3 linked regions of the Homo sapiens genome follow. The protein of the gene in region 1 interacts with the protein of each later gene in a biochemical or structural test. Each region holds a gene or a part of one and is shown on either strand. Other genes may lie near its edges.

Region 1 (8,783 bases):
GAGTTCGAGGTCAGCCTGGACAACATAACGAGACTCCATCTCTAAAAAAAAATTTTTAAATAAAAATTTAAGAAAAATTTTAAAAGGTTATTTCCTCCCTTTCCCTGAAAACCACTAACATTAATAGAATGGCTAAAATTAGAGGGGAAAATTCATTCCACAGTAAACTTGGAACAAGTAGAACCTCAAATCACACACTGCAAAGAATTATCTGCCAGATAGTGAAATTGGGTTCCAAACCTAGGAAGATGCAAACAGCCAACACATATATCTCCAGATTTCAAACACAGGGCCCATTTCTCTAAAAGTAACTGAGAGGGTCCTCAGGATCCCAGCCACACATCTTTTACTTGAACAATGACTTGGACAGAGGTCACTGCTGGACTTCAGAGGCAGCAGCAAACATTCCCAAAGAATCCAGCTCTAGGAAACACTAAAGGACAGGGTAGAGGGTGAAGAGAAATGAAGAAGGGACATCTGACCTAAAATGGCCAAAACAGACTCTTGATTTCACGGCCTCCTACAGTCTACCTTAACTCGGTAAACTCCAACTCCATCTACCTGCTTGCTGAAATCAGAAACCAGGGTGTCATCCTTGATTCTTTGTCTCCTCATCCTGCTCCCCTGTATCTACTCCACTGATCCATCCCATCAATTCTACCTCACAAACTTCACTCCAGCCCCCAAACCACCAGCACCACCTCTTGCCTGGACTACTGCCCTGGCTCTTCACTAACCTCCCCACTTCCATACTTGTTCCTCCTTCAATGCTTTCTCCAAAGAAAATGCGGGGTCACATTACTCCCCTGCCTAAGCTAGCATAATAACGTACTCACTAGAACAGATTACTACTCTTTAGAACAGACTACAACGCCTTGCAGTTTCTGATCTCTTCCTTCCTCCCTAAATCTTATCTTTATTCTCTTTAACCAGTCTCAAGGCTTTTGCACCAGCTGCTCAGCACCTGTCAAAAGCAAAGAGCGTGACCAAGAACTGTACCTGCAGCCAAGCTAGCATTCACTTATAAATACAGGAAAATAATCCCAGCACTTTGGGAGGCCGAGGCAGGCGGATCATGAGGTCAGGAGATCGAGACCATCCTGGCTAACATGGTGAAACCCCGTCTCTACTAAAGATACAAAAAAATTAGCGGGGTGTGGTGGCGGGAGCCTGCAGTCCCAGCTACTCAGGAGGCTGAGGCAGGAGAATAGCGTGAACCCGGGAGGTGGAGCTTGCAGTGAGCTGAGACTGCACCACTGCACTCCAGCCTGGGCAACACAGTGAGACTCTGTCTCAAAAAAAAAAAAAAAAAAAAAAAAAAGGAAAATATTTTCTAGCACATAAACTTGAAATTTTCTTGGAGATGTGGACGTGGGGAGCACTAATGATTAATCAAACAATTCAGGAATGAAAAAGCTATTAAGAAGCTTTTTTATGTTAATGAGTACTGGAGTTGGGAAAACAATTTATATAAACTTTATAGGATTGGGTGCTGTAACTCACATCTGTACTCCCAGCACTTTAGGAGGCCGAAGCAGGGGATTGCTTGGGGCCAGGAGTTTGAGATCAGCCTGAGCAACATAGCAAGACTCTGTCTCTACAAAAAATTTAAAGATTAGCCAGGTGTTAGTGTGTATCTGTAGTCCCAAGCTACTTGGGAAGCTGAGCCGGGAGGATAGTTTGAGCAGGCGTTCAAGGTTACATACAGTGAGCTATGATTGCGCCACTGTACTCCAACCTGGGCAACAGAGGGCTGTTAACCCACTATAACCCTATTAAAAAAAAACCTATTAAATAAATAATCCTATTTTAAAAAATCATAGTTAGGCTGTTATAGCTACAGAACAGAATGTAAATGTACAGAATGTAAATGTATAAACCTTGACAAAATGAAAATAATTAAACTAATTCAAATTGGGTAAGGAAGGAATGGAAATGAATCCGAGTTCATTTATTTGTCTTTACTGGGGGGTGTGGGGAGGTGTTAAATCCTATTATCTAAATCTGATAAATCAAAAAATGTATAGTTCTTTAAATTTTAAACTACTATTTTAGAACTATGTTTTAAATTTAAAAGCTATTGTTATAAAAATTAAATAACAAAAACAGTCTTTCTATAAGTAACGCAAAACAACGAAAAGAGCCCACATGGCAAAAAATACACTCTATCGAAACAAACAAATAAAATGAAAGATGTAACATCAAACACGTTATTCCTTAAAAACATGTAAACAAGGGAATCTCATTCAAACAAAGAGCTTTTCCTACCTAACCAAAAATCTGCTTTTTTCTTTTTTTTCTTTTTTGAGACGTTGTCTCGCTCTGTCTCCAGGCTGGAGTGCAGTGGCGCAATCTCGGCCCACTGCAACCTCCGCCTCCCGGGTTCAAGTGATTCTCCTGCCTCAGCCTCCGGAGTGGCTAGGATTACAGGCGCACACCACCATGCCCGGCTAATTTTTTATTTTGGCGAGGCTGATCTGGAATTTTTGTATTTTTAGTAGAGATGGGGTTTCATTCACCATGTTGGCAAGGATGGTCTCAATCTCCGGATCTCGTGATCCGCCCACTTCGGCCTCCCAAAGTGCTGGGATTACAGGCCTGAGGCACCGCGCTCGGCCTGGTTTGATTTTGATAGGTGCAAAGAGTTAATCTCAACTTTCAGTTAACTACTGGACACTGGTGTGCTCCTTTATTCCCAGTATTACACCAAGGAAAACGTTCCAGAAACGTCGATAAGCCGGTGGTGAATTACTGCCATCGGAACATTTACGGCATTCAAAGACAGAAAAAACTTCATCTTGAAAAATCACAATCCAAAAACAACAGCCATTCTTACACCAATTCATAAAAAATATGTGAACCACTTTATCCCTAAATACTGCAAAAACATCAAAATGAGGGAACAGTGGAACAACAGAGGTAAGAGGTAACTGCTAGAACCAGGATTAGAAACTAATTCCTGCCTTCTTCTGAACTCTTTTGCTACATCCTCCTTCCTCGCCAGTTTTCATGGGGTTGTTGGTGCTTTTATTGCAAGTTTCCTTCCCTTTCTTCCCTATAGCACTGTGTTCCGTCAACTCTGCGGCTCTATCACTGGAGGCTGTAGAGGCATCCGCTGATACACCAACAGCCTGCTAATTTCTATGGGGAGTAATAGTACTGGCTGCACCTCAAGTGCTTACAGTCTAGTTGACCATTTGTTTCTCTTTTTTTAGGGTCTTTAAAAGTGTTATTCTTTGTCGCCCTTTGTTTCTGAGTAATGCTCACGATGATGCTGATTCAACCACTGCTCTTCTGGGATCGGGGACCCCAGAAAAGAACCCACCGCCCGAGAGCCAAAGTGGAGGGGTGACCCTCCTCCCCTTTTCCTGCCACAGCTCACACTCTCAGACTTTTTGCTCTTAAAGTCCCTGGGCAGCCCCAAGGAGCCCCCGCCTCCTCCCGGGCCGCCCACGCGCGGCACCCCTGGAAGAAGGCGACCCCACGCCCCCCCTGCCCGGCTCGACCCAACTGACAGCGAAGCAGGATGCAGTTGGTGTCCTCCTGGCTGGCCACCCAGCTCAGCGAGTCGCCCAGCGGCCGCCGGCAGCCGGAGCACAGGAACACCAGCGGCCTCTCCTCCGCAGCCGCCGCCTCCTCCTCCAGCTGCGCCCTCTCCATGTCGGCCACCGACGCGTCTTCGCTCATGGAGCTCCACATGCTCGCCCACTTCTGCAACAGCTGGTGGCGGCTCGAGTCTTCGGAGAGTCTCTTGCCCAACAGCGAGGAGTCGCTGCATTTGCCCTTGTCGCCGCACTCACAGCCGCCAGCGCATCCTCTGCTACACCTCAGTGACCGAACGCCTGCCATTACCTACAAATCGCCCGCGCCCCAGAGCGCCATGGGAAAAAAAACCGCCGCTGCTCATGCGCGGGGCGGGGAGCGGTGGCGGAGGCCGAGAAGGGGCAAAAGCCTGAAGGGGGCGGGACGGCGGGCGGCCTCTAGTGCGCATGCGCGCCGTGCGGCCTTGGCCAAGCGTGATAGTCACTGCGCCTGCGTCAGGTTTTCCAGCCTGAAGAAATTGATGATGCAGACCTGTTTGCTTGTCTTCCTAAGGATTATTCACCCCTTTCCGTGGGAGGGGCAGCGTCACTGAGAAAGTTACGGGTTGCAAGCTTGAGTGTCTAAGAACCGCCTGGCGAGCTTCTTAAGCAGATCGCCAGGTTCCATCTTCGCAGACTCTGGTTCAGCAGGTAGCAGGTTAGCCCGAGAATCTGCATTTCTAACAAGCTCCTAGGCGTGCCCACGCTGTCAGTATTGGCAGCCCAACCTTTTTTGGGGGGTGGGGGGGGGAGTTTTTCTATGTTGCCGGTCTCGAACTCCTAGCCTTAAGCGATCTTCCCTACTCGGCCTCCCAAAATGCCAGGATCGCAAGCGTAAGCCACTGTGCCAGACCACCACCCTTTTTCTTCTTTTTTGTAAGTGGACTAATTATAGTTGTATATAAGCAGCTCCACTTTTGATGACCACTGCTCTATTTTGTCGGCTCCTGGGGACCTCCTTTCCATGAAGTGGAGAAGGAAGGGGATAGAGGAGTCCCTCATCACAGGGTCCTTTTGCGCACTGCTATCCCTGGAATGAGACCCTGGGAAGGGCCCCGGATCACTCAGGCTGTCACTGCAAGGAAAAAGTTGAGGAAGCAGCAGTGCCCCTGGAAAGCCTGGAAGTGTCCCTGCTGCTTGGATCAAGGAACAATTCGTCCTTGCAAGGAAGAAGCATCCCTTGTTGATGATAAGGACAGATTTCCTCAGCTGCCCCAGAAAGCCAGCCTCTGCCTAAAACACCGTAGGTCAGGAGGGAAAGCTGGCGGGGAACCAGCCAGCTGCACCACAGACAGTCTGGTGGTATACCTGGGAAGAAAGCTACCTGCAAGGACCTACTCTGTTCCTACTACGCTCTGGGTGTCCCCCAAGTCACTGCCTATTTTGCTTGGTTGCATAAACTATTTATGTAAATGTACTTCCAATTTTAGTGCTTACAGCCACTAGCAAAAAGCAAAAGCTTTGGAGTCAGTGGTCCTGGTTAACTTACCCCTCCCTCCACAAGGTAGTAACAGTGTAGGGAACTGTGGAAAAGGCTGTTTGCCTTCCCTGAGTCTAATTCTTCATGGAGTAAATGGAGTCTGTTTCTTCAGTACTACACCAAGTTGTTCATGAGGATCGAGTTTTCTAATATTCATGAAAATACTTTGTAAACCCTGGCACACCATGCTCATGTTAATCACCTTCTTACTGGAAGAAAATGCTTTAGATAATTTAGGCTTTTTTTTTTTACCCATAGAATTCCCTTCCTTCCTTCTGCTTTTTTTTTTCTTTTCTTTATTTTTTCAGAGATGATGTTTCAGTATGTTGCCCAGGCTGGTCTCGAACTCCTGGCCTCAAGCGATCCTCCTGCCTCAGCCTCCCAAGTAGCTGGAACTACAGGCATGCCTCACCATACTTTGCCCCTTCTACTTTTGTAGAGCCAAGCCTGACCTTCCTGGACTGTTGTTTTCAAGCATAATATCTCTGGTACAACATTGATACAATCCACATGAGTTCTTTAAGTAAGTGGCTAGTTACTTGGGGATTCAAAGGATCATCTTGTCTCAGACTTTGGGTTCCTATTGTCAATACTTAAATTCTATGATAGGATGCCCCAGGAAAGAAGGAATACAAGGCCGAGCTGCGTGGTGACTTTCAGGGGCCCTATTTTTGCCTTAGTAGGCCTTTCTCTCCATAAAACAGTTAATAAAAATTTCATTTTATAGTCACATTGCTATGAAGATGATTATATTAAAATGATATCATAAAACATTTTTAGACCTGTAAGTTCATTTATTGCTCTTGATTAAAAAAATTGAAACATTTTCATGGTCCTTCAGAATATCATGGTTTGTAGGCATGATGCCTCCTGCACATCATGGAGAAGTTGGCTGATGCAAAATGAATTCCTCTATAGGCACAAGTGTGTTTGTATTAATATTATGAATATAAAAACAAGGCTAGCCATGGTGGCTCATGCCTGTAACCCCGGCACTTTGGGAGGCTGAAGCGAGAGAGTCACTTGAGCCCAGGAGTTTGAGAACAACCTGGGCAACATAGAGAGACCCTGTCTCTACAAAGATTTCAAAATTAGCCAGGCATGGTGGTGCGCCCCTGTAGTCCCAGTTGCTTGTGAGGCTGAGGCAGGAGGATGGGTTGGGCTTGGGAGGTCGAGGCTGCAGTAAGCTGTGATTATGCTATTGCACTCCAGCCTGGGTGACAGAATGAGATCCTGTCTCAAAAAAATAAAAAACAAAACAAAACCTCAGCTAACCACAAAATCATCATATTTATGGGAGGACAAAATGAGATGCTTGAAAAAGATGACCTCGTAGTTTGTGGTTGTGGTTGCTTCCTAAACTACATTCTCACCGTACTTCCTAGTTATCTAACTAGGAGATTTGGATAAGGTTGAGTCCATCTCCACCACTCTCACCACCAGTTCCGGGAATGAGTCCCTAGAGGTTTAACCCGATCAATCAGGATGACCATGACTCTTCCATAGCGATTGGGGCAGGGATGGCACCTACCCCTGGCGACCCGTGCTGCTCCCCTGGCAATAGGGATTGGCTCAGAATAAAAACTTGGCCTTGTCAAGTTCAATTTTGCCCAATCTGAGTAAGGGAATCACAGAGAAACAGCACCCAATCTCTAGATCCTTCCAGTTGTGTGAGCCAACCAGTTCCAGTTATTGTGGAAGCCAGTTTCAATTGTTGTTTTGTTTTTACTAGCAACCAAAAATGTATGTAGCAATCTGTTACAGTATGTTAAAATTGAAGTTTCCACTAAGACTCCAAGATGAAGTAAAAATGAGATATCAAAGTGTGTGTGAGAGAGATTGCCCTCCTTCCTGGGGGAATCTTCAGAGTAGATTTAGGAGAGATGATTTCCTCCTGCTTATTATTATTTTTTTTTTTTTTGGAGTCTCACTCTGTCACTCAGGCTGGAGTGCAGTGACATGATCTCAGCTCACTGCAACCTCCACCTCCCAGGTTCAAGGGATTCTCCCACCTCAGCCTCCCGAGTAGCTGGGATTACAGGCACGTGCCACCACACCCAGCTAATCTTTGTATTTTTAGTAGAGACGGGGCTTTACCATGTTGACCAGGCTGGTCTTGAACTCCTGACCTCAGGTAATCCACCCACCTCGACCTCCCAAAGTGCTGGGATTACAGGCATGGGCCACCATGCTAGCTGATTTCCTCCTTCTCTTAAACACCTCTCTCACACACTTTGGGAATATAAAGGAAGGGAGAAAATCGTGACCAAGATGACTTCACTGGAAGGATCTCTTTGGAGATGGGCCCCTCCCCAATAGAGAAAATGAGGGTATCTGCCTCCTTGCCTCAATTTGGCTGATAAGAGACTTTGAGGAGACACTTACATACCTGTTGGTTCCCAGGCACTTGGGGACAGGGTGACCTGCAGGAGCGTCAAGCTGCGTGTGTTTTGGTAGCACAACAAAGGCAAACAAGGTAGGTTGTCAGCCAGATCGGAACTTTGCTGGCAGGATGTCACCTAGAGTCTTAATTTCTGCCTAAGGAGCTAACCTGGAAGCACGAAGACTCCCCAGTGGTGAGTCAAGTGTGAACAGCACTCCTGGAGAACCAGGGCAGAGGGAAAGCCAGCCTGAGATGAGGCCTTGCCCAGTGGGTCATGGGCATGCACTGGGATTTGGGATGTGCAGGGAGTCCCCGAGGGGACTAGGAGAGAGGGTCAGGTCTAACTAGATCTTACCTAAGAGTGCAAAACAAAGTTAGAACAAGTTCAAGTGTGTATTAGTCCGTTCTCATGCTGCTATAAAGAACTACTTGAGACTGGGTAACTTATAAAGGAAAGAGGTTTAACTGACTCACAGTTCTGCATGGCTTGGGGAGGCCTCAGGAAACTTGCAATCATGGCGGAAGACAAAGGGGAAGCAAAGCACGTCTTACGTGGCAGCAGGAGAGAGAGAGAGCAAGCCAAGGGGAGGTGCCACACTTTAAAACCACCAGATCTCGTGAGAACTCACTATCATGAGAACAGCCTGGGGGAACTGCCCCCATGATCCAATTACTCCCACCACGCCCCTCCCTCAACACATGGAGATTGCAATTCAAGATGAGATTTGGGTGGGAACACAGAGCCAAACCATATCAAAGTGAAAACTGTCCTATCCCCCACTTTCCCCATCTCAGGCTAGGCAGAAATGAAAACCGCAGGGAACAGGTGAGGTGGGAAAGAGCAGGGCCAGCCACAGCCCCTTCCCCACCTGAGGCAGGGAAGGCTAAGGCGGCCTATGTCCTACCTGGGGCAAAGGGAAAACAGTTCTCATCCTGTAGTGAAGATTGCCATGTTGATTAGTATCTTGGACTGACGCTACCATTTCTTCACTGGGATTCTGTTTGCAATGAAAGTGCCTACAGAATTGTCTATTCCCTAAGAGGACCTTAGAAGAACACAGAGAGCATGCACTAAAATTCTGCTCGTGTGGGGAGGGATTCTTTGCAAAGGTTTGTAGGAGAGAACCATGAGGGATGGTACAGGAATCCAGGTTAAAAGCAATGAGGCCAACACCACCCCTCCCTCGACCTAGAGGGATGCTGGGCGAGGTTACCAGAAAGAAGGAGAGTTGCGAAGAGCAGACCACCTTGAGACAATCACCTTCCATCCAGGGTCACAGTCACCAGCTGGGGTGACCTCATAGGGAGGGAGGCAGGAGATTAAATTCTCTGACCTCGC
Region 2 (7,715 bases), on another chromosome or scaffold:
ACTTAATCAAAAAGAATGTCCTGACCTTTTATCCAACTCATTTTAAAGATTAAGAAATTAACCAAAATCCCATAATGCTTTTCAAATTTATGTTAAAAATATGTTACTAAAAGCTTACTGCCCTAACAAAAATGCAATTATTGCTTCTCTAGAACATTTACTTTTGTACTGATTTCTAAAAAAGATGTGGGATTACTAACAGCACACATTTACAGTTTTTTTTCCCACTTTAAAGTTAATTCTAAATAGAAATTGCTTAAGAATCTAGAAATTGGTGGCGCAGTGGCTCACACCTGTAATCCCAGCACTTTAGGTGGCCAAGGCAGGAGATCAAGACCATGCTGGCTAACACGGTAAAACCCCGTCTCTACTAAAAATACAAAAAAATTAGCCAGACATGGTGGCGGGCGCCTGTAGTCCCAGCTACTCGGGAGGCTGAGGCAGGACAATGGCGTGAACCTGGGAGGCGGAGCTTGCAGTGAGCCGAGATGGTGCCACTGCACTCCAGCTCCAGCCTGGGCGAAAGAGCAAGACTCCGTCTCAAAGAAAAAAAAAAAGAATCTAAAAATTGAGGCTGGGCATGGTGATTAATGCCTGTAATCTTAACATTTTGGGAAGCCCAGGCAGGAGAATCACTTGAACCCAGGAGGTGCAGGTTGCAGTGAGCTGAGATCATGCCATTGCACTTCCAGCCTGGGTGACAGAGTGAGACTCCGTCTTTAAAAAAAGAGAATGATCAATCCATCTCAGGATCTCAGGTATATATTTTGTGTTGGAAATTTGCAATGAAGAACAAATGGTATACCTAATGCACAGTGAGCAACCCATGGTAAAGGACTGGCTGATAAGTTTTATTGTTTAGTCAACCATAACTCAGCTAAAAACATCTATCTAAGCATAAGAAATGAGAAAAAGCGGCCGGGCGCGGTGGCTCATGCCTGTAATCCCAGCACCTTAGGAGGCCAAGGCGGGCGGATCACGAGGTCAAGGAGATCGAGACCATCCTGGCTAACACAGTGAAACCCCGTCTCTACTAAAAATACAAAAAATTAGCCAAGCGTGGTGGTGGGCGCCTGTAGTTCCAGCTACTTGGGAGGCTGAGGCAGGAGAATGGTGTGAACCCAGGGGGTGAAGCTTACAGTGAACCAAGATCACGTCACTGCACTCCAGCCTGGGCGCCACAGCAAGACTCCATCTCAAAAAAAAAAAAAAAAAAAAAGACATGAGAAAAAGGAAACCTTTTAGTTTTATGAAAGGAAAATAAGCTTTTGAGTTAAGACATGCTCAAATCTCAGCTCTTCCACCTCTTTGAGCCCTAGTTTTCTTAAACTATATTAAGAACTCAGTGATATAAGCATAATGCCTACATAAACTAGGTTGTCAATGCTTGTTTTTGTTTTTTAATGGTCAAGGAAAGACTTCTAAGGATGTTTCAGTTTCTTGTAATAAGTAAAAAAGCTTAAGTTAAAAGTGCAATTTATTAGGAAAATAATGAAATAGCCAATGTAATTCATGAGAAAGGATAACCAGTAGGGTAGTTTTTCTGACACTATGAGGCTACATGATCATTATTTTTACTTTTCTCTGTGTCTGCTTCATGTTTTACTGCAGAGAAGACTTCCCTGCAGCTACATGCATCACATGGGAAATAGCTATCCCATACATAGAGCTTTCACTTCCAAACTTCAACACTAGTACTATCTACACGTAACTGGTATTTCTGGGCCCTTGTTTCAAATTCCTAAGGTAGAAAACTGGTTGGCTTAGTTTGGGTCAGGTATCCATTTTTCTTTTTTTTTTTTTTTTTGAGACAGAGTCTCGCTCTGTTGCCAGGCTGGAGTGCAGTGGCGCGATCTTGGTTCACTGCAACCTCTGACTCCCCGGTTCAAGTGATTCTCCTGCCTCAGCCTCCCAAGTAGCTAGGATTACAGGCATGCGCCACCATGCCCAGCTAATTTTTTTTGTATTTTTAGTAGAGACGGGGTTTCCCATGTTGGCCAGGATGATCTCGATCTCCTGACCTCATGATCTGCCCACCTCGGCCTCCCAAAGTACTGGGGTTACAGGCGTGAGCTACCACGCCCAGCACCGTTTTTGGTTTTTAAGAGACAGGGTCTTGCTCTGCTCCCCATGCTAGAATACAGTGACACAATCATAGCTCACTGTAACCTTGAACTCCTGGGCTGTAGCTATCCTCCCACCTTAGCCTCCAGAGTAGCTAGGACTACAGGCATACACCACCATACACAGTTAATATTTTAAATTTTTTGTAGAGACAGAGTCTTGCTATGTTGCCTAGGCTGGTCTCAAACTCCTAAGCTCAAACAATCCTCCAACTCAGCCTTCCAAAGTGCTGAGATTACAGGCATGACCCACCATGCCTGGCCAGGTATTCATTCTTGATCCAGTACCTGGGAGTGGGAATCACACATGATACAAATCACACATGATACAAATATACAAGGCCCCACCTATTAGAGGGAGAGAGAGGCTGGGCACAAACCCAAAAGGTATCTACTGCAACATTATTTTGCAAAAGCTTGCCTTCTAGAATGTTCTTTTTATCTTTTATTTATTTTTATTTTTTCTGAGACAGAGTCTAGCTCTGTCACCCAGGCTGAAGTGCAGTGGCTTGATCTTGGCTCACTGCAACCTCCGCCTCCTGGGTTCAAGCAATTCTTCTGCCTCACCTCCCGAGTAGCTGCGACCACAGGCGTGTGCCACCACACTTGGCTTATTTTCGTATTTTAAATGGAGATGGGGTTCCACCATGTTGGCCAAGCTGGTCTCGAACTCCTGACCTCAGGTGAACCCCCGACCTCAGCCTCCCAAAGTGCTGGGATTACAGGCGTGAGCCACTGCACCCGGCCCATAAGGGAGCAGTTTGAGATGGGAGGCTTCACCATGTTGCCTAGGCTGGTCTCAAACACCAAGATTCAAGTGATCCTCCTGCCTCAGCCTCCTGGGTAGCTAGAATTACAGGCACACACCACCACATCTGGCAACAAGTTTCTTTAATGAAAGAATACCCTCTGAATTTTCCCATGGTATGACTTTTAAGATATGGTATGATAAGACATGGAAGATAATCATAATGTTATAAGATTATATTTTGGTCCCACTGCTTTTTTTTTTTTTTGTCACCCAAAGTGGAATGCAGTGGTATGATCACAGCAAAATGTAACCTTGAACTCCTGGGCTCAGGTGATCCTCCCACCTCAGCCTCCCAAGTAACTGGGACTATAGGGGCACGCCGCCACATCCAGCTAATTTTTTAAAATTTTGTATAAAAAAAAAACAGGAGTCTCACTATATTGCCCATGGAGGTCTTGAACTCCTGCCCTCAAGCAGTCCTCCCACCTTGGCCTCACAAAGCATTGGCATTACAGGCGCGAGCCATCACACCTGGCCCACTGCTATCTTTTTGTCAAAGACAGTGCCTGACTTTAGCATCTTTTTGGTACAAACACTTTGTCTTTTTTCTTTTTTTTTTTTTTGAGACAGAGTCTTGTTCTGTCACCCAGGCTGGAGTGTAGTGGTGCAATCTCAGCTCACTGTGCAACCTCCACCTCTCAGGTTGAAGCAATTCTCTTGCCGCAGCCTCCCAAGTAGCTGGGATTACAGGTGTGCACTAGCATGCCCAGCTACTTTTTTTTTTTTTTCCTTTGGACAGAATCTCACTATGTCTCCCAGGCTGGAGTGCAGTGGCGTGATCTCACAGTGGCGTGATCTCAGCTCACTGCAGCCTCTGCCTCCCAGGTTCCAACAATTCTCGTGCCTCAGCCTCCTGAGTAGCTGGGATTACAGGCGTCTACCACTACACCTGGCTAATTTTTGTATTTTTCGTAGAGATGGGTTTCACCATGTTAGCCAGGCTGGTCTCAAACTCCTGACCTCGAGTGATCCACCGCCTCAGCCTCCTAAAGTGCTGGGATTACAGGCATAAGCCACTGTGCTCAGCCTACTTTGTCTTTCCTGAAAAACCTTTTAAAATTTATTTGATGGACTTTGTCTCAAAATAAATAAAATAAAATGTATTTGATGATCAATATCTAAGTCTACTCACCACACCATTTTGTCACTGGAAAGGCAGAAGTGACCTCTCAAGGCAGCCAGGGCAGCATGGGTAGAATACAGATGGAAACCAACGGGAATCCCACAAGAACCACAGAATAAAAGGTTGTAAGTACTAGGGGTGGGGAAAAACACAATATGGGTAAGAATAAAAAATCATATAAGAAATAAAAAATAACTAGTCTCTGAAGCATTCCTAACACCTAAGTCAGGGTGAAAATTACATTGTAATAGGAATGAGACGGAAAGAATGTCACATTCAAGAAAGGGTAACTCAGATTGTAATTTAATTACATGCTGGATTGCGGATACCCTCGTATATTCTGGTCAAAGCAATCATGGATGTATAATTGTCGCTTCAGAAGAGAAAGGTAATTTACCCCTAATAAACACAAAAAGAGCTAACTAATCTGATTAACATTTAAACATTTAAAACTACAAATCATGTAAAATGGCTATCATTATATAAATTCACAGTTGTTGAAAAATAATCAAGTTGACTGGGGCCTTACTAAACAAATTGTTCATAGAACTAAAATCAAGGTTTGTCTTTTGCTTATATTAAAAAAGAAAGTTAATGAAAAAAATGCGCCCTCTCCCTCTCCCTCCTCTCCCCACGGTCTCCCTCTCCCTCTCTTTCCACGGTCTCCCTCTGATGCCAAGCCAAAGCTGGACTGTACTGCTGCCATCTCGGCTCACTGCAACCTCCCTGCCTGATTCTCCTGCCTCAGCCTGCCGAGTGCCTGCGATTGCAGGCACGCGCCGCCACACTTGACAGGTTTTCATATTTTTTTGGTGGAGACGGGGTTTCGCTGTGTTGGCTGGGCTGGTCTCCAGCTCCTAACCGCGAGTGATCCACCAGCCTCGGCCTCCCAGGGTGCCGGGATTGCAGACGGAGTCTCGTCTCGTTCACTCAGTGCTCAATGGTGCCCAGGCTGGAGTGCAGTGGCATGATCTTGGCTCGCTACAACCTCCACCTCCCAGCCGCCTGCCTTGGCCTCCCAAAGTGCCGAGATTACAGCCTCTGCCCAGCCGCCACCCCGTCTGGGAAGTGAGGAGCGTCTCTGCCTGGCCACCCATCGTCTGGGATGTGAGGAGCCCCTCTGCCTGGCTGCCCAGTCTGGAAAGTGAGGAGCGTCTCTGCCCGCCCGCCATCCCATCTAGGAAGTGAGGAGCGCCTCTTCCCGGCCGCCATCCCATCTAGGAAGTGAGGAGCGTCTCTGCCCGGCCTCCCATGGTCTGAGATGTGGGGAACGCCTCTGCCCTGCCGCCCCGTCTGGGATGTGAGGAGCGCCTCTGCCCGGCCGCGACCCTGCCTGGGAGGTGAGGAGCGTCTCTGCCCGGCTGCCCCATCTTGAGAAGTGAGGAGACCCTCCGCCCGGCAGCCTCCCTGTCTGAGAAGTGAGGAGCCCCTCCGCCCGGCAGCCACCCCATCTGGGAAGTGAGGAGCGTCTCCGCCCGGCAGCCACCCTGTCGGGGAGGGAGGTGGGGGGTCAGCCCCCCGCCCAGCCAGCCGCCCCGTCCAGGAGGGAGGTGGGGGGGTCAGCCCCCCGCCCGGCCAGCCGCCCCGTCCGGGAGGGAGGTGGGGTGGTCCAGCCCCCCGCCCGGCCAGCCGTCCCGTCCTGGAGGGAGGTGGGGGGGTCAGCCCCCCGCCCGGCCAGCCGCCCCGTCCGCGAGGTGATGGGCGCCTCTGCCCGGCCGCCCCTACTGGGAAGTGAGGAGCCCCTCTGCCCGGCCACCACCCTGTCTGGGAGGTGTACCCAACAGCTCATTGAGAATGGGCCATGATGACAATGGCAGTTTTGTGGAATAGAAAAGGGGGAAAGGTGGGGAAAAGATTGAGAAATCGGATGGCTGCTGTGTCTGTGTAGAAAGAAGTAGACATGGGAGACTTTTCATTTTGTTCTGTACTAAGAAAAATTCTTCTGCCTTGGGATCCTGTTGATCTATGACCTTACCCCCAATCCTGTGCTCTCTGAAACATGTGCTGTGTCCACTCAGGGTTAAATGGATTAAGGGCGGTGCAAGATGTGCTTTGTTAAACAGATGCTTGAAGGCAGCATGCTCCTTAAGAGTCATCACCACTCCCTAATCTCAAGTACCCAGGGACACAAACACTGCGGAAGGCCGCAGGGTCCTCTGCCTAGGAAAACCAGAGACCTTTGTTCACTTGTTTATCTGCTGACCTTCCCTCCACTATTGTCCTATGACCCTGCCAAATCCCCCTCTGCGAGAAACACCCAAGAATGATCAATAAAAAAATAAATAAATAAATAAATAAATAAAAAAGAAAAAAATGCGCAGACTAAAAGAGAAAGAAAAGGGAATCCTATTACCCTAGCAAGCCATCTATTTTGTTTTCCTTATCCTCTGAAAAGATTACTGATGAAGAGTCAGATGTTGATTTTAGCTCTCATTACAATTCTTGAGCAAGTCATCATATTTGCTGGTATATAAGACATATTTAAATATTAGAAAGAAACATTTTGGTCAGGCACAGTGGTTCACACCTACTGTAATCCCAGCACTATGAGAGGCCAAAGTGGGCAGATAGCTTGAGCCCAGGAATTCGAGAGCAGCCTAGGCAACATGGTAATACCCCGTCTTAAAAAATAAATAAATGTTTTACAAGAAAAGCACTTTAAGAAAATATTTCATCATGCATGTGCTAAAAGCAATTTTAAAGTGGTTTGGTAAAGGAAAAATAAATTGTATTAATATATAGTATGAAGTTTTTTTTGGTTTTTTTTTGAGACAAGTTCTTGCTCTGTCGCCCAGGTTAGAACGTAGTGATACAATCATAGCTCACTGCAGCCTTGAATTCCTGGGCTCAACTGATCTACCTGCCTCAGCTTCCCAAAGCTGGGACTACAGGTGCATGCTACCATGCCCTACTAATTTTTTTTTTGGCAGAAATGGGGTCTTACTTTGTTTCCCAGGCTAGGAGAATTCTATTAACAAAATACAACATAAAAATCACATAGCTAGCCCGGGCATGATGGCTCACGCCTGTAATCCCAGCACTTTGGGAGGCCAAGGCGGGTGGATCACCTGAGGTCAGGAGTTCGAGACCAGCCTGGCCAACGTGGCGAAACCCTGTCTCTACTAAAAATAAAAAAATTAGCCAGGCCTGGTGGCGGGTGCCTGTAATCCCAGCTACTTAGGAGGGTGAGGCAGGAGAATCGCTTGAACCTGGGAGGCGGAGGTTGCAGTGAGCGGAGATTGTGCCACTGCACTCCAGCCTGGGCAACAAGAGCGAAACTCCATCTTAAAAAAGAAAAAAAAAAATCACATAGCTAAAAAGAAATATTCATGTCAGTGGATACTAAAAAAGAACAAATAACAATATATTGAGTTTATTGGTAAATGAAGTCCCACACCCACACCACACATATAGTAATGTAATCTTGTGAATATAGTTAACCAAAAAGCAAAATATGAAATAAAGTGTCATTAATTTGAAATTCCACGTAGGAATTAATTAATTCAGACAAAGCACAGTACTTATAAACAAATGTCTCAGTGGAAATTAATTTAATTTCCATTCGGGCGCAATGGCTCACGCTTGTAATCCCAGCATTTTGGGAGGCAGGCAGATCACTTGAGATCAGGAGTTTGAGAACAGCCTGGTCAACATGGTG
Region 3 (7,715 bases), on another chromosome or scaffold:
AATTGGTATGTTTAGACCATTTAATTTAATTATGTTGGATTTAGGTCAATAATTTTATTATTTGTTTTCTGCTTGTTCCATGTAAAAAAATCCTCCACTTCTCTTCTTCTTTGCCTTCTTTTGGGCTATTTGATTTTCCAGTATTTTAATTTATGTTTGAAATTATTTCTTTGTATAGTTTTTTTAGAAGTTGCTCTAGGGATGACATTAAATATACTTAACTTCAACAGTCTACTTAGAATCAATATTTTACTGCTTCAAGTGAAATGTTAATATTTTTATTTTAGCAGGTCATCAACCTGGTGGTATCCCAAGCTATACGTTCAGTCTACTATCATTGTTGTTTCAATGTCAGTTTCATTTTTCAAAGCTCTGCAGTGCTGTTAGGATCTTCCTGTGTGTGGGACACTGAGTAGCTAGCCTAGAAACTGGGTGTGGTCTACTGTTTAGTTCAGTTCTCAGTCTTTTATATGCTCTTTAGGACCATGTCCACATATGTACAACTCCTGGGTGGCATAGAAGTTCATAAACAACTTTATGGGGTTGCTTTTCCTACTTCCTCTCTTTCCGCGATTTCTGGTTCCCTGGAGTTTCCCTTGTCAGTGCTCTGGCCAGAAAGCTGGGGCTTTTATTACTCTGCTCTGCTGTATGCCTCACACAACTGAATTTTTGTCCAGTACCAAGCAACAGACAACAGAAAGAGAACAGAAGCAACAGGTACTTGCCCCACTACTTTGAGGCAACCATTCCTAATTGTAGAGAAGGTTCTCATCTCTCAGAGTTTTAGATATATCTCAGCCCCAGCTGATGCTGTGACTGTAGCCCCTGCAGGATTGCATGGGGACTGAGTTAAGAGAAAAGACAAAAACAAAACAAAACAAAACAAAACAAAACAAAAACAAACCAAACCAAACACTGGGGATTTCCTCTACTGTTTCTGAGTGTCAGAAGTCCCCCTTTCTGCTCCTCAACCCAGAACTGGAGAGCTCCTCTTTAAACTCTCTTTGTTACCCTTCAGTGCCCACTTCTAGGTTTCTAGTATCCTTGAGTCTCACTTGTGGGGCACCAAACTTTACTATTTATAACACTTGTTAGGCCGGGCACGGTGGCTTATGCCTATAATCCCAGCACTTTGGGAAGCCAAGGTGGGCGGATCATTAGGTCAGGAGTTCAAGACCAGCCTGACCAACATGGTGAAACCTCATCTCTACTAAAAATATAAAAATTAGCCAGGCGTGGCAGCGTGCGCCTGTAGTCCCAGCTACTCAGGAGGCTGAGGCAGGAGAATCGCTTGAACCCGGGAGGCAGAGGTTGCAGTAACCGGGATTGTGGCATTGCACTCCAGACGGGGCAGCAGGGCGAGACTCCGTCTCAATCAAAACAAAACAAAACAAAAAACAAAAAAATGCATTTCTTAAAATATGAAGCTACGTGAGAGAGTACTATTTGGCTATCTTGAAATATTACATGGGAATGAAAAGGTCACTTTTACTTTCCTCATACTTAGGCTTTCCTCGTACTTTCCTCGTATTAGAGATGACCACAAAAATACCACTAGGAGTTATGTGTAGTCTATCTCCATTCCCTGTGCAAATTATAATTTCTCCCTTTTTTTTAATGACATCTTCCATGTTAACCCCTTATTGCTATTTTTATGTCTTTAACTGTCTTGTGGCTGCTCTGTAGATATTTCGGAATGAAATCTAACTACTTACCAATGAAGTTTCTGTAACTCCTTCTCATTCCATTCCTTATCCTGAATTAAACCAGGTAAGCATTCTAAGGGATGCCTATTTGTCTTATCAGATCCTACTGCCTCAGTAATTGGAAACTCTTTCCTAACACCAGACTTCTGAAGAGTTTCTTTGACGGAAGGTCTAGCTTTCTTTTGTTTGATATAAAATTCATTTTCACTTTCTTCAGTTTCAGGTTCCAAAATCACTGGAATATTACTTGTGTTTCTTGTGCTCTTTCTCAGGTGAACCACTGCTTCTTTGGTGTTTCCTGCTTTGGTTTTCTTAACTTCAGCTTTCCTTTTAATTTCCTTTTCTGTTTCACTTTCTTCACTTGACAAATCTGGTGAGGACTGATGCTTATAAAATGACATAGCTACCTGATTTTCTATTTTCTTCAATTTTGGTAATAGTCTGGTATTTTTCTTAAAGTCAGAGGTGAGCATTTGTTCCTTTTCAAGGTTAGATATTTTTATTTTCCGGTTGACAGTAAGTAAGTCACGTTCATCGCAATCTTCCTTGTTTTTACTTTTATGACCTTCAAATGTATTTTCTAAAGTCCCCATGGACTTGCTGATGGGACTTTTTTTTTGACACTCTGGTATTACAAAATCTGTTACTGCTTTGATGGTGCCAGCGGACAGATTATACCTCATGCATCTTTGCTCTATCACTTTTCTAGATTTAAGTGGTGTTACTAAAATATAAGCTTTCTTCTGATTGATGGCCATGTATTTTCTTTCTTCATCTGAGAAAAACTGTTCCCTTGAGGTTAGAATATCAATGGATACATCCAATTCTTCAGTTGTCTCTTTAATTTCATAAGACAAAACCAAAGACCAAAATCTCAAATTAGCTATAAACAAATATAAGCACAGAAAATATATTTTCACAAATAAAAGATACTATTTTTATCCACGAGCTACACTGTATACCCACCTGTCATATTAATCTTTCTGAAGCCCAGGTCTATTCAGACCACTGCCCCTTCAACTGTAAACATATACTATTGTTTATACAAACCTGACAGTGACTTCTCACAGTCTTTTAGTAGACATATAAATAAGCTCCTCTGCCTGGCCTTCCACATAGTTCCAATCTCTCACTGTTGTCAAAATCTCAACTATATTCTATGTTCAGAACCACACCACTTGCTATTTCTCAGATTTTCTTGGTTCTCCACTTTTAATAATGTTGTCCACTCTGCTTTGAAGATGTTCTTCATTCATCTATAAACAAAATCACTACCTGCTTCGATTTTATTCTCTAACCCACCTAGTGTACAAACTTGTACACATTCCCTACACTGAATGAAAGCTCTCCTTCAAGTTTCCAGAATACTTTAAATAATGCCATGTTTGACAGTGAGACATGTATTATAATTGCACACTTGTCTTTCAATCAGACTGGAAAAAATAATTAATGGTTAGAACTTTATCTGTATGGTTTGATTTTTTTTTTTGCTGGAGTTAGTACAGAGCCTTTCACATATACAGTAGGCAATAAGTAAATACTTGTTAAATCAAAGCCCTGGAGGTAAAATATTCAGAAGATATAAGAAAACCAGTAGTCACTGAAACCTTACTAAGTATTATATGAGCTGTGCTAGTTAGGAGGACATGGAACTCCATCTGCATGGTTCCACTTTCATTGCCAATGGTGGTCATAGAAACACACTCAAAATGAATCCCCCCAAACACCATGAAGTACAAAACAAGCAAAAGAGAACAACCTGAGAATCTTATATCTTGTCACTAAAGAAAGCAAATTAAAATGAGAACAATTCACCAATTCAAAACCTAAGTAATGAGAAGTCAAACTAACTGAAACTATCCAACTGTAATTAGAAATACATATAAACTGCAAATCATCCCACTGTCATAGAAACATATTACAACCACCTCCACATATTATGTGCCATTGTTTACAAGATGACTGACAGAATGAGACTGATAGATAATATTGAATGCTGGGGAGAAAAGAAGCCTCTAAATTACAATCCGTGGAAAAAGGTAATAATCAAAATAATTTAGAAAGTGTCTACAAGATTTTCCACTGGCATCATATATCTTCAAATTATGAGAAAAGTATTTTCTTCTAACTCCTCATATAAATCCAATTCAAATGTTTACCTGGGAATTTGAAAATTTTCAACATTATAATTTTGAACAATATTTCCATTCAGAGTATTTGTTAATTTTAATAAATTATTTAATAAAGATCCAGCTATCTTGGATACTTAAACCGAATATGAACTCGGAAGTATAAGTAGCACTGCTTTCCTATCTTCTTCAAACAAATAAATGTTCTTCACTTTCACTTCTTTTCACTTATAAGAGGAAATAAAACACAAAAAAATGCTATAAAGCTAATGGATTTAGCTCAACATGAAATTGTAAACTTGCTAACATTTAGACGAAAGCCTCTAAATTATGGCATGCAGGATTCCAATTAAATCACTCTGAAAATCCACACTTAAAACTAAATTATTGTACTAAATTCATAAAAGGATTCACTCTTTACACATTCCTGTAAGCATATGTTAAATGATATATAGTTTTGTGATCTAAACAAATATTTTAGTACCCAGATTAAAGAAGGCAAACCTGTAAGTATAGGTGGTTTTTAAAAGGGCTATTTTATTATGAAAATCATCTTATGTAAAAATAACAAAACCAAACATTTAAAAACATTAAATAATTTGCCATTTTACATGAGGAAATTTACAAGATCACTTTTATCATATTAAAAACATTTCACATAGTAGCTTTCTGCTTATGATTAAAAAACCATTAAAGATATATTACCTTGCTTCTGACTTTTTATTATCCTTTCATTTGTTCTTTCACCAATTTTTAGTTTCTTTGAAGACATTTTATATTCTTTTTTTCCAATTAATTCCTTCAAAACAAAAAGATACCTAGGTTTTATTTTAAAACTACTACCAAAACATGATCTGAAGCATTTTCATAGTATGCATCAAGCATACAAATTTCTAGGTACTTACAGTTCCGCAAATTTCATTAGTGGACACATTCCGAAACTTACTTGCCAGACCTTGAGCACTACGAGCAACATCTGGGAATCCATTATCCTACATATTTTCTACATTAATTTAATACTTTGTGGTTTTTCAAGTGCTTTTAAAAATATGCTTTATTTAAGCTTTACTCTAAAAGCTAAAACTTTTATTGTTGCCTGCATTTTTTCATTGAGAGACAGGGAAAATAAATATCAAGACATTCAGTCCCCAAGTAAATGAAAAGCTGATACTTGAAAAACAGAACTCTTGGCTGGGCGCAGTGGCTCACGACTGTAATCCCAGCACTTTGGGAGGCAGAGGTGGGTGAATCACAAGGTCAGGAGTTCGAGACCAGCCTGGCCAATATGGTGAAACCCCGTTACTACTAAAAATACAAAAATTAGCCAGGCGTGGTGGTGCATGCCTGTAGTCCCAGCTACTCGGGAAGCTGAGGCAGGAGAATCACTCGAACCCAGGAGGTGGAGGTTGAGGCAGGAGAATCACTTGAACCCAGGAGGCAGAGGGTGCAATAAGCCGAGATCACGCCACTGCACTCCAGCCTGGGCAATAGAGGGAGACTCCATCTCAAAAGAAAAAAAAAAAAAAAACAGAACTCACGTCCCTGATATGGTCCCAAACCTTTTCAGTAGTAAATCACCCTTCTAAATATCAACTTGAACTATACAGTGTACAATAAAGCCTTACCTGATTAGATAAGTCATCTCCTCCTCCATTTTGAATAGTATTATTTACTTGGTCATCTGGGAACCTTAATGTTGGTTTATTTTGGCAATTACTGTGGCACATGTTTAATTCTGTAGCTCCTGGTGACTCACTGTGCTTATTACTCTTCAGTTCTATGAATACAAAGATGGAGATTTCAATAAATGGTTATATAAAAGAGAAGCTGCTTTTCTACATGAAGAATTAACTTTGACGCTAGGTGTGGTGGCTCACGCCTGTAATCCCAGCACTCTGGGAGGCCGAGGGAGGAGGATTGCTTGAGCCCAGGAGTTCAAGACTAGCCTAGGCAAAATAGTGATACACTGATTCTACAAAGAATAAAAGGTTGGTGCAAGCCTATGGTCCCAGATACTTGGGAGCCTGAGGTGGGAGGATCACTTGAGCCAGGGAGGTCGAGGCTGCAGTGAGCCGTGATTGTGCCACTGTACTCCAGCCTGGGTGACAGAGCAACACCCTGTCTCAGAAATAATAATGATAATCTGTCTAATCCCTCTGTCATAAATATTTGTTATAATTTGACTAGGATATAAAGCAATTTTATTTGGAAAGAATCACTCTGTATAGCGCTACGCTACATTTTGTTTGAATCACTTTTTTTCCTTCAAAAAAAATTTAAAAAGCCTAGACAGCCATATTATTCACGACCATCTGTTTTGGATCTCCTTTGTCACATCTAAAGACAGAATAGTAAGGTTAATCCATTTTGTAAATAAAAATTCCTGTTCATCCTAACTGCACATCAACTAAATAGAAAGCTAATAACTGTTCTTCTTCTATTTCTTCATGTATGTAGAATTATGTTTCAACTAGTTTATGTACTCCAATGTATAACTAAATTTCTGTAATTAAAATTTTGAGCAAAACTAAATTATACAGTATATAATATATGCTCAACAAACAGTTACTAAGCTGGAATTCTAGGTAAGTTAAAACAGATTCATAAAAAGTATAAAAACATTTTGTTATTTTTCTAGAAGCTATTCTTTAAAGATGTACTGACTAGTCCTTGCTCTTGAAAATATTACCATATAATGAAGGAAGCTTCTATTATGATAGGTCATTTATCATATACTCTGGTAAGTGTAATAACAGAGATAAAGTGCTTTAAGAGCAATACTATGATACACAAGTACTTTTTAGGCAAATCATTAAAACACATACATAAAATTACATTATCTTAAATTAACATGGGTTGGTACCTTTACATAACCTTAGCTATATAATGTTAGATGTGGTTTTGTTTTTTTCATGCAAAGTGCAATGATAATAATAAAATTAATAACAGCCCCAACCACCACTCAAAATAACTTACGTGATATGAAGATAGTGTCTAACAGTTTCATTAAGAAAAGATCTAATGAATTACACTAGAAAAATGATGCAATCATAACAGAATATATTAATATTTGCCCCTAAACCAAGATCCCTGGGGGTGGGGGTGGGGGGAATCATGCCTTATTCATCTCTAAGTTCCTAAAACTTAATAGACCAGGGTTCATGGAAAGCACTTTAAAAATGTTGACACCAGGTGCCATGTTTCATGTCTATAATCCCAGCACTTTGGGAGGCCAAGGTGGGAGGACTGCTTGAGGCCAGGAGTAGGAGACCAGCCTGGCAACATAGTAGGATCCCATCTCTACAAGAAATAAAAAACAAGCCAAGTGCAGTACTGTATGCCTGTAGTCCCAGCTACTTTGGAGGCTGAGGTGGGAGGATTGCTTGAACCAAGGAGGTTGAGGCTGCAGTGAGCCATGATTGCACCACTATATTCCAGCCTGGGAGACAGAGCAAGACCCTGTCTCAAAAAAAAAAAAAAAATTGCTGAGTGATTTTCCTATGGACACAGCTGGTATGTAAAATAGTTTACCAAACTTTAGTCTTTTAAATTTGTATTCATTTCTCTTGTCAATAGCTTTCTTAAACACTTTACTGATAATATTTGCAATTAAGATCAAATCCCTAATAAGTGCTGGCTCTAAGTGAAATGGGGTACAGGAAGAGGTAAGAACCAAGACTAAAGACCAACAAATGATTAAAAGTGAGATATACTGTCAAGGATTTTCTTGTTTTAGGAGTAAAAAAGTAGAGAGCAGGTGCCGAAGCCCCAAGGTTCCAGCATACTCAAGATGCTCCAGCAATAAAAATAGGCAATATGCCTAATTTAGAGAAAATAGGATGACTTTTGATAAAAAGAGGAAGGGTTGAGAAGGAACTAG

What was found.
Region 2: the proteins of MIS18A (region 1) and OIP5 form a complex in vitro, tested with the Homo sapiens proteins (3 studies listed by BioGRID).
Region 3: the proteins of MIS18A (region 1) and MIS18BP1 form a complex in vitro, tested with the Homo sapiens proteins (2 studies listed by BioGRID).

What each region holds. Positions count from the first base shown.
Region 1 is NC_000021.9:32,275,166-32,283,948, forward strand, and holds the start of MIS18A (protein Mis18-alpha), read right to left. Parts: upstream 3,885-8,783; 5' UTR 3,850-3,884; coding exon 3,516-3,849; intron 1-3,515. UniProt on the Homo sapiens protein: Required for recruitment of CENPA to centromeres and normal chromosome segregation during mitosis.
Region 2 is NC_000015.10:41,315,592-41,323,306, forward strand, and holds part of OIP5 (protein Mis18-beta), read right to left. Parts: intron 4,190-7,715; coding exon 4,067-4,189; intron 1-4,066. UniProt on the Homo sapiens protein: Required for recruitment of CENPA to centromeres and normal chromosome segregation during mitosis.
Region 3 is NC_000014.9:45,222,203-45,229,917, forward strand, and holds part of MIS18BP1 (mis18-binding protein 1), read right to left. Parts: intron 5,613-7,715; coding exon 5,461-5,612; intron 4,635-5,460; coding exon 4,541-4,634; intron 2,545-4,540; coding exon 1,716-2,544; intron 1-1,715. UniProt on the Homo sapiens protein: Required for recruitment of CENPA to centromeres and normal chromosome segregation during mitosis.